Linked DNA regions of Homo sapiens: region 1 is linked to region 2. A link means that fine-mapping ties the variant in region 2 to the expression of a gene that starts in the linked region. Tissue or cell type: CD4 T cells. Region 2 holds a variant in brackets; the other region holds the start of a gene. All regions are shown on one strand. Distances are between the middles of the regions.

The links. PIP is the estimated chance that this variant, and not a neighbour inherited with it, causes the effect.
Region 1: NPL starts here. The variant in region 2 is fine-mapped to the expression of NPL in CD4 T cells (BLUEPRINT, PIP 0.95).

Annotation. Positions count from the first base shown.
Region 1 is chr1:182,786,262-182,794,362 of GRCh38, forward strand. NPL (N-acetylneuraminate pyruvate lyase) reads left to right here and starts at 3,512. Exons shown (of 13, transcript NM_030769.3): 1 at 3,512-3,544; 2 at 5,971-6,025; 3 at 8,095-8,101. RefSeq lists an enhancer at 3,165-3,665.
Region 2 is chr1:182,315,461-182,323,566 of GRCh38, forward strand. No RefSeq gene overlaps it. Among named protein-coding and RNA genes, the nearest start is that of LINC01344, 5.5 kb to the left of the region's middle. The variant G/A (reference allele first, on the strand shown) is at 4,505.

The DNA of each region.
Region 1 (8,101 bases), 470 kb after region 2:
CACCTGAGGTTGGGAGTTTGAGACCAGCCTGACCAACATGGAGATACCCCGCCTCTACTAAAAATACAAAATTAGCCTGGCATGGTGGCGCATGCCTGTAATCCCAGCTACTCCAGAGGCTGAGGCAGGAGAATCACCTGGGAGCCAGAGGTTGTGGTGAGCCAAGATTGCATCATTGCACTCCAGCCTGGGCAACCAAAAAAAAAAGTAAGAAGAAAGAAAGAAATAGATTGGTGGCTGCTTATGGCTGGGGGTGGGGAGGGGGAAATAGAAAAATGAGTGACTACTAATGGCTAGGGTTTTATTGGAGGGAGTGATGAAAATGTTCTAAAATGGTGACACAAGTTGCACAATTCTGTGAATAGACTAAACTACTGAACTATTATACACTTAAATGAATTGTATCATAGTGAAATATATGTCAATAAAGTCGTTACTTAAAAATCTGGAGTCACAGATCTTAGGTTTAAGAATGCCAAATATGGAAGTATATCTCTTGTGTTCAACTCATTTTTTTCCTTCTAGCTCTTTCTCCTTAAGAACCCAGTAAGCATTCACTAAAGGGCTAAGCCAAAAGACAGCTGAGCATGGCCGCACTATGCTGCCCCCTCCTGGGATCCCAAAGGATCTTCTGAACCCAAGCTTATGCACAGGACTTTTCCCTTCTCAAGAGATGTCCCTCTCCTAGTTAGCACTCACGCTCAGAAGATAAACCCTAAAGGACAAGGGTTTTTGTCTCAGGGCCAGCAATCAGTTCAACTTCTATTCGTGGCCTGTTCCCTTCTCTGAAGACCTCTGGACTCTGATGAAAAAATAAACCCTACCTTTTCCATCAGCCCCATTGACACACCCATACAAGCCAGAATTTCCAGAAGTGACTCTCATACCCGGTTACGCATTCTTCACAGTGAATGGAACAGACTCTTGTCCACCTGTGGACAGACCTTTTACTGGAACACAATGGGTAACAACACTTCAAGATCCAACTTAGGTCTCCTTCCTTCATAAGTGTTCCGCAATTTAGCAGTGTTTCAGTTGTTGAAAACCCATTTTCTCTTTTCAGGTTAGTATAGCCTTACCAGAAGATAAGGGGAAACTTTCTGGGGGACCACCCCTCACCCACAGTCAGTTCAGGAGCCTGTGATGGGGGCATCACCTCCAGCTCCAAGGATAGAACATATGACTGTTCTGACCAAGTTCATTGCACCATATCTCCCAAGCTCTTTCCCCTGCACCAGTGGGTTTCAAATTTGAATTGTAGCAAACAAAATCTGATACAAAACCCTGACATACATTTGTTTTAAACAAAGAAGAGTTGATGGTAGTAATATTTCTAAATCTCACCCTCTTGGCCTGCACTTGGATAGACACTATGTCCTGCACTGTGGGAAAAACAAAGGAATAGGACATGATGCCTGCCTTGAACACCTTGCAGTGGAGTTGGGGGCAAGAAACAAAAGCAAGAAAATTAATGATTAAATAATACTACATAATAATAGAAGAAATCTCACAGAGACTGCCGCTTATCAGAAGGGGGTTAGAGGCCTGCAGTTCAGCACTGAGCCTTTTGTTGCCTCTCTTCTTCTAAGCCCTACTCATTGTCTGATATTTAGCTTGGCTGTGACCTTCCCCAGTAAGACGTTTCTGGAACACCCTCCTGCCTCTTCACACACACACACACACACACACACACACACACCACCCCCTTCAGCCCAGATTAGAGCTCAGTGTTCCTGTAATATCTCTGTACAGTCTATCACTGCATTTACCATATTTTAAAACAACGTCTCCCCAACACTTCACAGTATAGGCTCTGAGTTTCATAACGGCACAGAGTGGATACTGTAAGAATGCAGTGAGACTCTCCCTACTCCATGCTCCTTTCTTCCATCTTTTGTTCCACAGATGTCAGCCCTACATCAGTCTGCAGGCTGCTCCTGTCTGCTCCAAATCCCTCCCCCAGTAAGTTTCTTGCACATCTAATCCCATCTTAGCATCTGCTTCTTGGTAGACACTAACAAATTATTATAAGGAATTACTTTGCACTACCATATTTATACAAAAAGTAGTTAGTTCATGCATTTAGAATATTGGTTTGTTGGTTGACAATGTTAAGCCTAATGACCTATACCTTTTGGGTACTGACATACTTAATTTTGCACTTATTAAACTGTGACTTTCCAAAAAAAAAAAAAACTTTCATTGTACCATTAGGATATAATATTCTTGTTAATATTACAAAAACCAAACCAAAACAAAAACCATGCTGCAGCCTTAGGAGAACTTGCTTCATGTAACTAAGGGTTTTTCTTTTTCTTTTCTTTTTGTATTTTTTTTTCCTGTAGGATAACATAGTGTTAAAAGCACAAGCTTCTGGACTACTTGAAATCAAACCACAGCTTAACCAGCTCTATGGCTTTTGGCAAATTACTTCAACTCTTTAAACCTGTTTCTGATCTGTAAAATGGAATGATCCTTGCTCATCTGTAATATATACATTTATAAAACAGGACCCACCAATGGGATTATTTTATGAATTAAATGTTAAAACAGCTAGAACGGTGCAGGCTGAGTAAGCACTGAACACAGTACTTATTAGCTATTATCTCTGGTGCTCTGTGCAACGAAAGAACTATTAGAATACATTTAAAAGCACTTTGCAAACTAGAAAGCCCTTTGAACAATTTAGTTTCTCTAAATGTAATAATAAGCATCAGCCATCGCCTTTTATGGAAAATTGAGGTGGAATCACATCAGCAAGAGAAAACTGAGGACTTGTCTCTGGCTCTGTTCCTGATTTATTCACACAGTACATGATCCTAGAATAAGACTCCTGATACTCCTGAAAGTAGAGGCGGTTGGGTTAAAAATAATTTTCCCTTTCAAAACTCTTTCAAATGTTCTCCAAAAGAAGCCAGGAAAGCTCCCGTATGAGTAGATAATTCACTTTAAAATTCGCTCATCTCTCTTTAACACGAGAGTCTGCAGGGCTGGTGCAGCGGCGTCAACCCGAAGAGACCTGAACGCCGATGGGCAGTTGGGATTCTCCGTACGCCTCGGAAACAGCAGCCCAAACCTCACAACGCAGAACCACGAGATAGTGGGGATTGCAGAGCCCTGCGCAAGAGAAGGAAAATTAAGACGCAGCGGAGCCCAGGAGGTGCCCGCACGCGGGAAGGACTGGCGTGCAGACGAGGCAGGGGGAGGTTTGCACTCGGCGTGGCGCGGGTGAGCCGCGTGCTCTCGGGCACCCGGCCGCCAGTTCGGATGCTTCCGATCCTCGGGGAGCCGGGGCGCTGCGCCGGAGTCACTTCAGCCCATGTTGTTCAGGTGACACCCGGGGAAGAGCAGACTCCAGTGTGCAAAACGTTTCGGGGTTTCCGGGCCAGCGGTTCCGGGCGCGCCTCGCGGGCGGCGGCGCAGAACTACAACCCCCAGGCTCCCTGGCGTGGCGGCACGTGGGCCCGAGCCGGGCGGCCGCGGATATAAAGCGCGGCGGCGGCTGCCGGGCGGAGCGGCTGCACGGACAAGAGCGGAGGCCTGGGTGAGCGCGGCCCGCGACGGCACGGGCTAGGACAGACGGACGCAGACGGCCCGACGACCTGGGCGTTCGGGCGGAGGGGCGCTGGGGCCTGACTCGCGGGTGGGTGAGACGTTGACGGACCCGGAGGAAAGAGGGAAGGCAGATACGCTGGGAAACGGATCTGGGGAAGGTGTGAATGCGAAAAGTGTAGGGACAGACGGGGGCAGAAGAACTTACTCCCCCGGATTGTTTGCAGACAGCATATCTGCCGGGTCTCCAAAGGTCCTTTCCTCAAAATAGAGTTAGCAATTGAGCAGAAGAGAGCTTAAAGTTAAACCTGATACATCCCCCCTTCACTTGAGGAGAAATTGGTGGTTTTCTGCTTTTTTAAAAATCCCTATTTGTATCTCCTCTTCTCCGAGTACCTGTCCCTCAAGATATTCTCTGCCCAGAGGTACATTCTGCCCTCACTTTCTGTCTCTTAAAAAAACAACTTTGCCATTTAAAAAAGAATTTGACTTAGGCAGCTTTAATTCTTTGCACTGAGTGTTCTTATCTGTGGATGGAGGTATAAGATTTCAAGAGTAATACCCCCTCCCAATGTTTCAGTAATAATCTAAATTCACATTAAGCCTTAGGCTGGAGAACATTTGAGCTATTCGCTTTAGCTACGAGCTCTGAAAACTTCAAAGCATAACATTCCCAAGTTTATCTAAAACTTGAATCTTAAAAATAATGATAATTATCTGTTATGCTTCAAAGCATAACATTCCCAAGTTTATTAAAAACTTGAATCTTAAAAATACTGATCATTCTCTGTTAAAGTCTTTTGTTGTTGTTGTTGTTGTTGTTGTTGTTGTTGTTGTTGTTGTTTTTGAGACGGAGTCTCGCTCTTGTCGCCCAGGCCGGACTGCAGTGGCGCTATCTCGGCTCACTGCAAGCTCCACCTCCCAGGTTCACGCCATTCTCCTGCCTCAGCCTCCCGAGTAGCTGGGACTACAGGCTCCCGCCACCACGCCCGGCTAATTTTGTATTTTTAGTAGAGACGGGGTTTGGCCATGTTGGCCAGGCTGGTCTCGAACTCCTGACCTCAGGTGATCCGCCCACCTCGGCCTCCCAAAGTGCTGGGATTACAGGCTTGAGCCACCGCGCCCGGCCAAAGTCGTTTTTATCCCATTTCTTCCTGTAGGCGTTTCAAAGTTTGCAAAGGCAGCAAACTTTTACGTAGTGTAGTTATCTGTGCAAAGAAATTTTCCAAGCTGCCATTGCCCCCAGATGGCAGACAGTCTAGGAGAGGAGCCAAAACCACCCTGCTTAATAACTCTGATGTAAGGTTTTTAATGAAAAGCCACTGTTTGGGGGAATTCTGAGGTTTAAGAAATTATTTTCGGCTGGGGTATCAGGAAATCCCCTGGTTTTTAAAATGAGAGGTTTTTTGGTTTTTGTTTGTTTTTGTTTTTAAGCTATACCTGCTGGAATGGATAAAGTGAGCTTTAAAAGTTGATCAGACCGAAGAGATTGAAGTGAGAGAACCACAGGAACAAAGGCAAGCAGACAGACAGTGAAAGGTAGATAGGAGGAACAGCAAACAGTTTGTTCAGCTGGGCAAGTATAGTGCAGGCACGAAGATTTCAATAGAGACCCAGACCCCAGGGAGCTGGTTCTTTAGCCTACTGGCATTTTCTAAACAGGACAAAGACAAGACCAGAAATGCTGGTGTTACTGGAAGATTAATCTGACAGCTGGTGTGGATTGAAGAAGAGAAGAGGGATTAGGACAGTGATTCCTAACCCCTATCCTACACTCCCAACGGCCCCTTGTTTTGAATTTTTGAACTAATCAAACTACATTTGTGGTAATTAGTTTTATTTCTTTCCATTAAAGACATATAAAACTGCCAATTTGAGCTTCTGATGATTCTAAGAACATCAGTGTTACCGTCCTTAGTATCAAATAAATGCAGGCAAAAGCACAAGACTACGGAGTTTTATTTAGCCTGAACAGCCTAGTAGTGTTGGATTTAGGAGGTGTTTAATGCTGACTCAAGCTCTCAGGACTCTTATCACTTGAACCTTCTTGGGCCCTGTGGACCTGGGGTTTTGCCTATTTGTCTAGATAAGAGGTAACGAAGGGAAAAATTATAAAGGCGAAAGGAGGAATAGCAGGGGAAGAAGATAACAGAATTGAAATGACTTAGTCCCTAAATAGACAAGAGTAGTGAGTGTTGGAAAGGAGGCACTAGCAGAGCAGAGATGACTGGGAAGATGATGCTGGTAAGGGCATGATAGTATTTTCTACTGTCCTATACACATCAGGCAAGACTTCATGGAGAGCACTGAACACGTACTCACTATGTGCCTAGCATTGTTGTTAATCACTTTACATGAATTAGTTCATTTAATTCTCTCAACCCTATGAAATATAATTACTATTATCCTCATTTACAGAAGGGGAAACTGAAGCAGAAAGAGGTTACTTAATGGGCTCAAGGTCACCTACCTGGTAAGTGGTGGAGCCAGGATGCAGATCCATGAGGTCTGACTCCAGAGCTGGCCCTCTCACCCCTCTACAGTAAGGAACAAAGGAGATGGCAGGTCCCTTTGGGCATGTTAAGTTGAGATGTTTGTGGGAGTGCTAGGTGAAGATATACAGCAGGCATAGCATCAATCTCCTTTGATACTTAAACATCCCTCCAGTGGGGAGATGGCTTAGGTTATGGGCCTTTAAGGCTCAGAGGCTAAGTGGCCTGCTTATTGTACTGAGGGTGGTCACATGAAGCTCAAAGAGTGATTAGAGCCACATCTTATGATTTATTATCTTGTGTTTTCCCATGGGCCAGGTTATTGGATTCATCTTTCTAAACTTCCAATCTGCTTTTAGTCTCATGTTTGAACTAGGAAATACAGAGCAAAGCTACATGCAGGACTTGGTCTTGATTTTAGGAGCAACTCTTGCTGAGAACATGTCTGTTTGCAAGGAAAGTATCGTGTTGTCTTTCTACTGAAAACAGTCAGTGTTTCTCAAGGGCTTACCTGAGCCAAGACTCTTGGGGAAGAAAAATAGAAGATATGGTCTCTGTACTTCAGAAGTTTATTCTCCTATTTGGGAAGATAAGATGAACAATTAGAAGAGCAAACAAAACAAGATAGCTTATAACTAAGTACTACATTATGTGGGTTAGATTTAAGTATAGTGGGCATTGCATTTTTGAATGTGCCAGTAATGTCAGAACTATAGCATAACCCTTCTTGTTGGTCACCTACAGACATCACTTTATTTGCTACAAGACCACTATCTTTTGTAGAATTGTCATCAAATACTATCTGATTATATTTTATTTTCATTTTCAATTGTTAGACATTAAATTTGTGGTCTGAAATTGCATTTGTGGCTTTTTATGTCTTATAGCTCAAAAAACAATAATGCTTCTAGAACTAGCAAATGTCAGAGCTGTGAGTTGAACCAGGTGGTCTGCCTATGGAACTGAGGCTGTTAACCAGTCTGCTCTGTTGCTTCTTGTGGCCCATCCAGAGTCTTTTACACTGATTATGGGCAGGTACACTCTCTGCCAGATGGTGAGAGATCCTTTGGCCCCAAATGAGTGGTGTGAGTTGGACTCTTCCAGCAGTGCGCTACCCATCTGTGGAAGCCATCATCCAGTCACAGTCTGAACACCTCGTTCAGTCACCCACATATTCTTCGCTCTTGAATTGAACACCTGGTGTCAAGCAGAGGGCTCACTGCAGAGAGCAAAGGCAAATGAAACATCCCTGTCCTGGGAGCCTGCTGTAGTGGGGAAGAGGGAGGTGAATATGCAGTCTACATGGTTAACTAGAACTAGGAAAACTGGACAAAACTGGGCAAAATTAGGATATAAAAAGATAGGTAAATCTGAAGGTAGTTATGTAAATCATGATGAAACCTTAAGACAGGCTTGTTTTAGGTGAGATTCTAAGAATGAAGACAATGGAAAGAGAAAATGTCCCCTTTTATGACCATATTTCAGTTTAAGTAATAGTACAGTTGACCCTTGAATTACGTTGATTTGAAGTGTGCAGGTCCATTTACACAGATTTTTTTCAACCAAATACGGATAGAAAATCAGTATTTGCAGGATGCAGAATTCTCATATGCCAGGCTTGGGGCTGACTGTGTGACTTGAGTAGGCATGGATTTTGGTATACACGAAGGTCCTGGAACTGATCTTCTGTGTATACTGAGGCATGACTATAATTCACTGTATGTTTTACTTACCTGAGTTAGGTTCAAGCTCTTTCTTGGGTCTGCTGCTGTTAACCTCTATCCTTTGAGGTGTTAGATTGCTTCCATCATCTGTATAGCTAAAATGGGAGACTGTCCACGTAGTATTTTCTCAAGTCTACCCTCTCCTGTCTTAAAGTTTCCTCCTCAATAGAATTAAGCACTAAAATTTTACCATCTTGTACTTGCTCTGTGTGTTTGTGTACTTGTAAGCACATTTTACAGTTCTAAACTAGAAATGGACTTTGCCTGGGAGTTTTATCATTGACATTCCTTGAAGAAAGAGAGAAATTACATTGTATGTTTTCCAGACCTACC
Region 2 (8,106 bases):
AATCTCTGGCTGCTGAAGCTGCTTATCCCTACTGTGGCCGTTCCGGGTTACCCACTTCTTCCTAATCCCAATTTGCCTTCCTTGTCTAGCTGCTAGGGGCTAGATGGCTCAAGGGATTTCTTTTGTTGATATTGCTGTTGGTGAGATTGCATTTTGCTTTGTCTTTCTCCTAACTCAAAACAGATGGAACAGGGAAATAAAGAATGGTTGATAATCCTAGTCACTTATCTTTGGTAAATTTCAAAGGGTAAGTGGAGGCAAATAAACAATCATTCAGTAAACAAGTATAGTTGTTTTTTTTTTTTTTTTGAGACAGAGTTTGGCTCTGTCACCCAGACTGGAGTGCAGTGGTGCCATCTCGGTTGACCACAACCTCCACCTCCCAGGTTCAAACCATCCTCCCAAGTAGGTGGGACTACAGGCGCATGCCACCATGCCTGGCTAATTTTTTTTTTTTTTTGTATTTTTGGCAGAGACAGGGTTTCCCCATGTTGCCTAGGCTGGTCTCGAACTCCTGGGCTCAAGCAATCCTCCTGCCTCAGCCTCCCAAAGTGCTGGGATTACAGGTATGAACCACCATGCCCGAACACAAGTACAGTATTTAATGCACATTAAGGAGGGCTTAAAATGATCCATATTAGGCTGGGCATAGTAGCTCATGCCTATAATCCCAGAACTTTGGGAGGCCCAGGCAGGTGGATTGCTTGAAGTCAGGAGTTCAAGACCAGCCTGGGTAACATGGTGAAACCCTGTCTCTAGAAAAAATTTTAAAATTAGCCGGGTGTGATGGTACACACCTGTGGTCCCAGCTACTCAGGAGGCTGAGGTGGCAGGATCTCTTGAGCCTGGGAGGTTGAGGCTGCTGTAAGCTGTGATTGGGACACTGCACTGCACTCCAGCCTAGGCAACAGAGTGACTCCCTATTAAAAAAAGAAAGAAAGAAGCAGAAGCAGAAGAAGAGAAGAAGAAGAGGTAGAGGAAGAGGAGGAAGAAGAGGAAGAAGAAGAGGAAGAGGAAGAAGAAAAGAAGAAGAAAGAAGAAGAAGAAAAGAAGAAGAAGAAGAAAAGAAGAAGAAAAGAAGAAGAAAAGAAGAAGAAAAGAAGAAGAAGAAGAAGAAGAAGAAGAAGAAGAAGAAGAAGAAGAAGAAGAAGAAGAAGAAGAAGAAGAAGAGGAAGAAGAAGAAGAGGAAAAGAAAGGAGAAGGAGAAGGAGAAGAAGGAGAAGGAGAAGAAGAAAAAGAAGACGACAAACAAAAAACCGAAATGCTTGGCCAGAAATAGAGTGGAGGCCATGTGACTGGAGCAGTGTGGCTGTGGGAGAGAGGAATGAGAAGACTTAAAAGAGGTGAGCAGGAGCCAGAACACCGGGGACTCTGTAGGCCATGGTAGGTGGCTTGATGGAATTCCAGGAACAAAGGAGAGTGGCCCAAGGGATGCCAGCAGGAAAGCCTTGTGATCTAATTTGCAATTGCAAAAGATTTCCCTGTCTTCTACATGGAGAATGAATTAGAATGCAGCAAGAGAAGATACACAGAAACTAGTCAGAGGAGGTATTGGGGTTGACCAGGTGAGAGATGGCAGAGGCTTGGCTAGGGTGATGATAGTGAAGGTAGGGAGATGTGAATGACATCAAGGACATGATCTGAAAGTGGGACTGACAGGGCCTGCTAATAGATTATGAAGAGTAAGAAGGAGAGAGAAATCAAGAATGCTGTCTTTGATTCTGTCCCGAACACATGCATCTCTACTCCCTTCTCCATCCCTAACCCCTTCCTCTGTCATCCACATCCCAAGAGTTTCCAGTCTCCCTGAGTCTTTGGTCAGAAAACCAATTTTCCTGGGCATTGGACAAAAATTTGTCTCCAGGATTTCAAACCAGCAGATATATCTCTTCTCCTTCTGCCTGGGACTGTGGACTCCTGAAATCTGTAAGTATTTTGCAAGTTCTCTTACCAGGACCACATTCTTGAGAAGAGGGTTCCTGTGACTCTGGGCCAAAGAAGTGCTGAGAAGGTAGTCCTCTTCAAATCACTCACAGCCCTAAACAGGTGAATCAGCCTCGACTGGCATGTGAATTTGTCCCACTGATTGAAAGAGTAGAAATTTATGCTAGTGGCAGGTGCCAACCAACAGTAGATTCAACATAAGAATTCAGAAAGGCAAACCTATGTGCATGTCATTATAAAAACAACTGTGACAACAAAAGGCACCAGTCCAATTTAAGACATAAGCTCCTAAGGAACAAATTTCCTAACAAGACTTCCTTGTTTGCTCTATGCAAATGTTGAGGCTTATTGCACATTTGACACAAAGACTAGACTTTATGTGAAAATTCACACAAACATTTCAATTGCCTAGTGGCTTGAAAACTAAAGGAGAGGTCTGTTGTGTATGTGTGGGGTGAGGGTGTGGCAGTGAACTGGGGCAACAGGCAGACCGTACAAAAAAGAGGGTGGATTTAATGGTGGCAAATGCCTGATCCTAACCCTTTCTCCCTGCCCCCAGGGTGAAGGATAATATGAGCCTTGCCATTCAGCAACTACACTAGAATAGAATTAATAGCACTTGTGCTGCCCAGAAAGCCATTCTCTGAACAGATGGCATTTCCCAGAAGGACTAAAGCCTAACAAGCCTGAGCTTAAATCCTGGAATTGGCTGGCTCACAATAACTATGAAGGAAGAAAAATCCCCTGTTTGGTTTGGCTTTCAGTCTCTCCTAGGCCAGGAATCAACGCTTCATGAACTGAGGAGATGGAAAGATAGAGCCTCTAATGTATACCAGATCGGGCCACAAAACCTTCTCAGCAATGGGCATACATCCTAGGCCTGGCTCTCTATAAATATCCGATGGCTCCTTGGGAAGGAAGCTGGACTGTCTCTCCAGTTCAGGCCCATTTCCTTTTCTGACACTTTCCAATGCCTTCACTGGAGGGCTGCCATGTAGCCTAAATGCTGGAATACCATGACCTGAAGCCTGTCTCCAAAGAGACTCTCAGAGGAAGGGAATGTCATCTCCTCATCAAATCCAATATATTAAGAAATGGCAGGGAGAATCTCAGTGAAGATGGATGTAGGGAGAAAGGTTATGAAAAAGAGAAGTCAACAGCTGAGTTCAAACCAATTCAGACCCTCTTTGGACAACCAGTGGGACTTCAGACACTCACCTGGGAACCTGATGGTATCTCATTGCTAACCTTACATGACTCACTTTCCAAGTGATGTCCATGCCCTTCACCAACATCTTTTAAGTGTCATTTACTTGTGTTTTGGGACCAAAGTGTTACAACTACATCTTCATATTTAATTGAAAAGGTTTATTTTTTTCTAAATCAGAACTGGCCTTTCAGTCAATGGCGTGACAACTTCCCTAAAACTAGTAAGGACAAGAAAAAAAATTTTTTTTAAGAGACAGTGTTGACAAAGAGACTCTGTCTCAAAAGAAAACAACAACAATAACAACAAACCAAAGAGACAGGATCTCACTCTGTCGCCCAGGCTAGAGTGCAGTGGTGTGATCACAACTCACTGTAGCCTCGAACTCCCAGACTCAAGCGATCCTCCCTCCTCAGCCTCTTAAGTAGCTAGGACTACAGGTACACATTCCCATGCCCAGCAAATATTTTATTTTTGGCGGGGAGAGATGGGGTCTCACTAGGCTGCCCAGGCTGGTCTTGTACTCCTGGGCTCAAGCGATCCTGTCACTGTGGCCTCCCAAAGTGCTGGGATTACAGGCGTGAGCAGCCACAGCACCGGACAGAAAATTTGATTTTAAATTTAATTTTTTTTTTTTAGAGACTGGGTCCCATTCTGTCACCCAAGCTGGAGTATAGTGGCACTGTCATATAGTTCACTGCACCCTAGACTACCTAGGCTCAAGAGATCCTCCCACCTCAGCCTCGAAAATGCTGAGGGGCGTGAGTCTCCACTCCCAGCTAAAACAGAAAATTCTAATAGGCTGGAGCCCCACAGCATTCTGATAATATCGTATGCACATAACAGGTGTAATCTGAGTCAGGCTGTCGGATCTAATCTCGTGCCTGGAGAGCAGAGATCTAGAAATCATGTCTTAGATTTGAATTTCACCTTTGCCATTGAGTTGTAGGACTTTATTTTCTTTGTTTTATTTATTTTTTGTTTTCTTTGAGTTGTAAGACTTTTGACAGGTCACCCCTTCTTTTTACTGCCCACTCACATAGATGAATTTAGAACAACCAGTTCGAAAACAGGTACGATGGCCAGGTGCAGTGGCTCACACCTGTAATCCCAGCACTTTGGGAGGCTGAGGCGAATGGATCACTTGAGGTCACGAGTTCGAGAACAGCCTGCCAACATGGTGAAACACCATCTCTACTAAAAATACAAAAATTAGCCAGGCATGGTGGTGTGCGCCTATAGTCCCAGCTACTCGGGAGGCTGAGGCACGAGAACCTGTAGAACCTGGATGGCAGGGGCTGCAGTGAGCCGAGATTGCACCACTGCACTCCAACCTGGTGACAGACAGACTCC[G/A]TCTCAAAAAAAAGGTATGGCAGGGGAGGCAACAACAACAAAAAAATAGACACAATTCTAGTTACCTAACACTGCATCATTCTGTGAGTGTCTTAAGGATTGCAGATGGGGGTTTGTGTAAATCACTTGCATTTGAATAAAACAGATATGCACATATGAAAAATTCACTTAGCAATAAGCAAAGATTTAATCTCTGATACAATTTTGAACAATATCCTGACAGTTCACAAATCTTTTTTTTTTTTTTTTTTTTTTTGAGGCGGAGTCTCGCTCTGTCGCCCAGGCTGGAGTGCAGTGGCGGGATCTCGGCTCACTGCAAGCTCCGCCTCCCGGGTTCATGCCATTCTCCTGCCTCAGCCTCCCAGGTAGCTGGGACTACAGGCGCCCGCCACTACGCCCGGCTAATTTTTTGTATTTTTAGTAGAGACGGGGTTTCACCGTTTTAGCCGGGATGGTCTCGATCTCCTGACCTCGTGATTCGCCCGCCTCGGCCTCCCAAAGTGCTGGGATTACAGGCGTGAGCCACCGCGCCCGGCCCACAAATCTTAAAAATTCACTGGTACATCTTGGTGGTCTGTTTTTCTGAGTCTTTCAGATCATTCAGTCTTGCACAAGCAGCAGCTGCAATCTACCGGGAGGGAGATTCTGCAATGGGAAACCACATTGCTCATGCTGGGCAAACAGACCTGTCATTTCTAGAGACCTGGAATGATCCTGCCTGCCTGGCTGCAAGGCAGGGAGGAAAGCAGCATTCATCTATTCAATAGCCTGGTGGATAAAACAACCCCATTGCCAGGTGTGGCGGCTCACGCCTGTAATCCCAACACTTTGGGAGGCAGAGGTGGGCAGATCACCTGAGGTCAGGAGTTCAAGACCAGCCTGGCCAACATGGTGAAACCCCCATCTCTACTAAAAATACAAAAATTAGCTGGGCATCGTGGTGGGTGCCTGTAATCCCAGCTACTTGTGAGGCTGAGGCAGGAGAATTGCTTGAACCCAGGAGACGGAGGTTGCAGTGAGCCGACATGATGCCACTGCACTCCAGCCTGGGCAACAGAATGAGACTCTGTCTCAAAACAAACAAACAAACAAACAAAAAAAACCATTGAAGTGGAGGTTTGGAGGACTTAGAGACTTAACTATCCTTTAAATTATAACTGAGAAGTTAAATTGGGTATGTTTTTAGAGAAATTTGACTTTCTCAGAAGGAAAGTGAAAAATATAAAATCCAGAGAGAAATACAAAGTATAGTCAGATCAGTAATTCTTAGCTTATTTTTTTTTTTTGCAGTCTGTCCTAAGGTGACATTTTGTGTGTTATTTGTTTATTGTTTATCATTTAGTTCTCTCACTAGAATGTAAGTGCTATGAGGGTAGGAACATGTGTATTTTATTTCCATATTTCCATTACATTACCTGGCCCTAGTAGAGTGCCTTCCATAAAATAAGCATTCAAAAAAAAATTGTTGAATGAATGAATAATGAATGAATGATTCAGACTTTTTCACGTCCTAGACCCCTTTTTAAAAAATCAGTGGAAGTGGCTGGGCACGGTGGCTCATGCCTGTTATCCCAGCACTTTGGGAGGCCAAGGCAGGTGGATCACCTGAGGTCAGCAGTTCAAGGCCAGCCTGACCAACGTGGTGAAACACTGTCTCTATTAAAAATACAAAAATTAGCTGGGCATGATGGTGGGCGCCTGTAATTCCAGCTACTCAAGAGGCTGAGGCAGGAGAATCGCTTGAACCCGGGAGGTGGAGGTTGCAGTGAGCTGAGATTGTGCCACTGTACTCCAACCTGGCCGACAGAGGGAGACTCCATCTCAAAAAAAAAAAAAATCGGTGGAAGTTATGATTCTTACCTTATCCCCAAAATACATATATTCAAAAATGTAAAATATATGTTATTATATTACATAATTTATACATATATAATTACAATACATATTATTACATTTTTATATCTATCTATCTATCTATCTCTAATTGAATCTTCTCATGCAAAGGTCCCAGTTTGCAAAAGACATTCCTGCTTCACCAATGGTATCTGTTATCCCTAAAAAGCACATAAACAAAAGCTCTGCTGTCATTCTCCTTGGAAAAAATCCTTTTTTTTTTTTGGTAGAGACTGGGTTTCCCTCTGTTGCCCAGGCTTGTCTCAAAGTCCTGGCTTCAAGCAATCCCCCAGCCTTGACTTACCAAAATAGGATTACAGGCATGAGCCACCACGCCCCAGCCCAGAGGAGCAATTCTGAAGAGGCTTAAGACTGGGACTTTTGGGTCTTCTGACTCCCAGGATAAAACATCTGACATTGGCTCTTAGAGACATATGAAAGGTCCTGGGTCATTCCAGACATGTGACCAGTAAAAGGAGCCCTTCGGTGAAAGGGAAGAGAAAAAAAACTCTAAATTTGGACTCAGAAAACTTGAGTTCTAACTCAGCTCTTGTGCCATACTGGCTGTAGAATCATAGCTAGGTAATGGACTTCTCTGAGCCTCAGTTTCCTCATGTGAATGAAGAGGTCTGGCCTAGGCCCAGCATTCCACATTACAGTATCATAACTTCTAAACCAGGCAAATGAAGGAGCGACAGAGCTTCAGATGAAACAGGATGTTACTATGTAGTTAAAATGTCCATTTTGTAGCAGTGCTCCCTTGCTATGAAAAGAGAGCATGACTTATGCTGAAGCACAAGAAACTTTAAGTAAGATAACAGAAAGGACTCTCAATAATATAAGGACTGTGAGACAGAGTCAGACATGTGGGTGCTTGCAGAATATCCCTCAGAAGGTGTAGTGGGATGAGGGCCAACATTCATCTCTCAGATGATCTGTTCTAGTATTTGCTGGAAAAAGATCCTCAAGTCCAGTTGCCTCCAAAATCCACCCACTCTTTGGGTCAGGCATGGTGGCTCACGCCTGTAATCCCAGCACTTTGGGAGGCCAAAGTGGGAGGATCACCTGACGCCAGGAGTTTAAGACCAGCCTGGGCAACATAGTGTGATCCCATCTGTAGAAAATATTACAGCTTTTTAAAAAAATTTTAAATCTGCCCACTCTCTGACCCTAGGAATATCCCTAGGCTTACGTTTTCCACAAATAAGATTTTATTTTATTATTTGAGACGGCGTCTCACTCTGTTGCCCTGGCTGGAGTGCAATGGTGCAATCTTGGCTCACTGCAACCTCTGCCTCTCGGGTTCAAGTGATTCTCCTGCCTCAGCGTCCTCAGTAGCTGGGATTACAGGTGTGCATCACCACGCCTGGCTAATTCTTGTGTTTTTCGTAGAAATGGGGTGTCACCATGTTGGCCAGGCTGGTCTCGAACTCCTGACCTCAAGTGGTCCGCCCGCATCAGCCTCCTAAAGTGCTGGGATTACAGGCGTGAGCCATTGCGCCTGGCCACCACAAATAAGACTTTAAGTGAAAAATTTCTACATTTATTCTAATGCTTTGGGAAAAAGTATTGATTGCCGTGGGGTATTTTCTTCTAGTCAGTTCTTTCACACAAAGAAATCTAGACGAAAGCGACATTGATTGGGCACCTCCCCGGCAGTTCTTTCCATGGGCCATCTTGTTTAATTCTAGAGCAACCCTGAAGGGCAC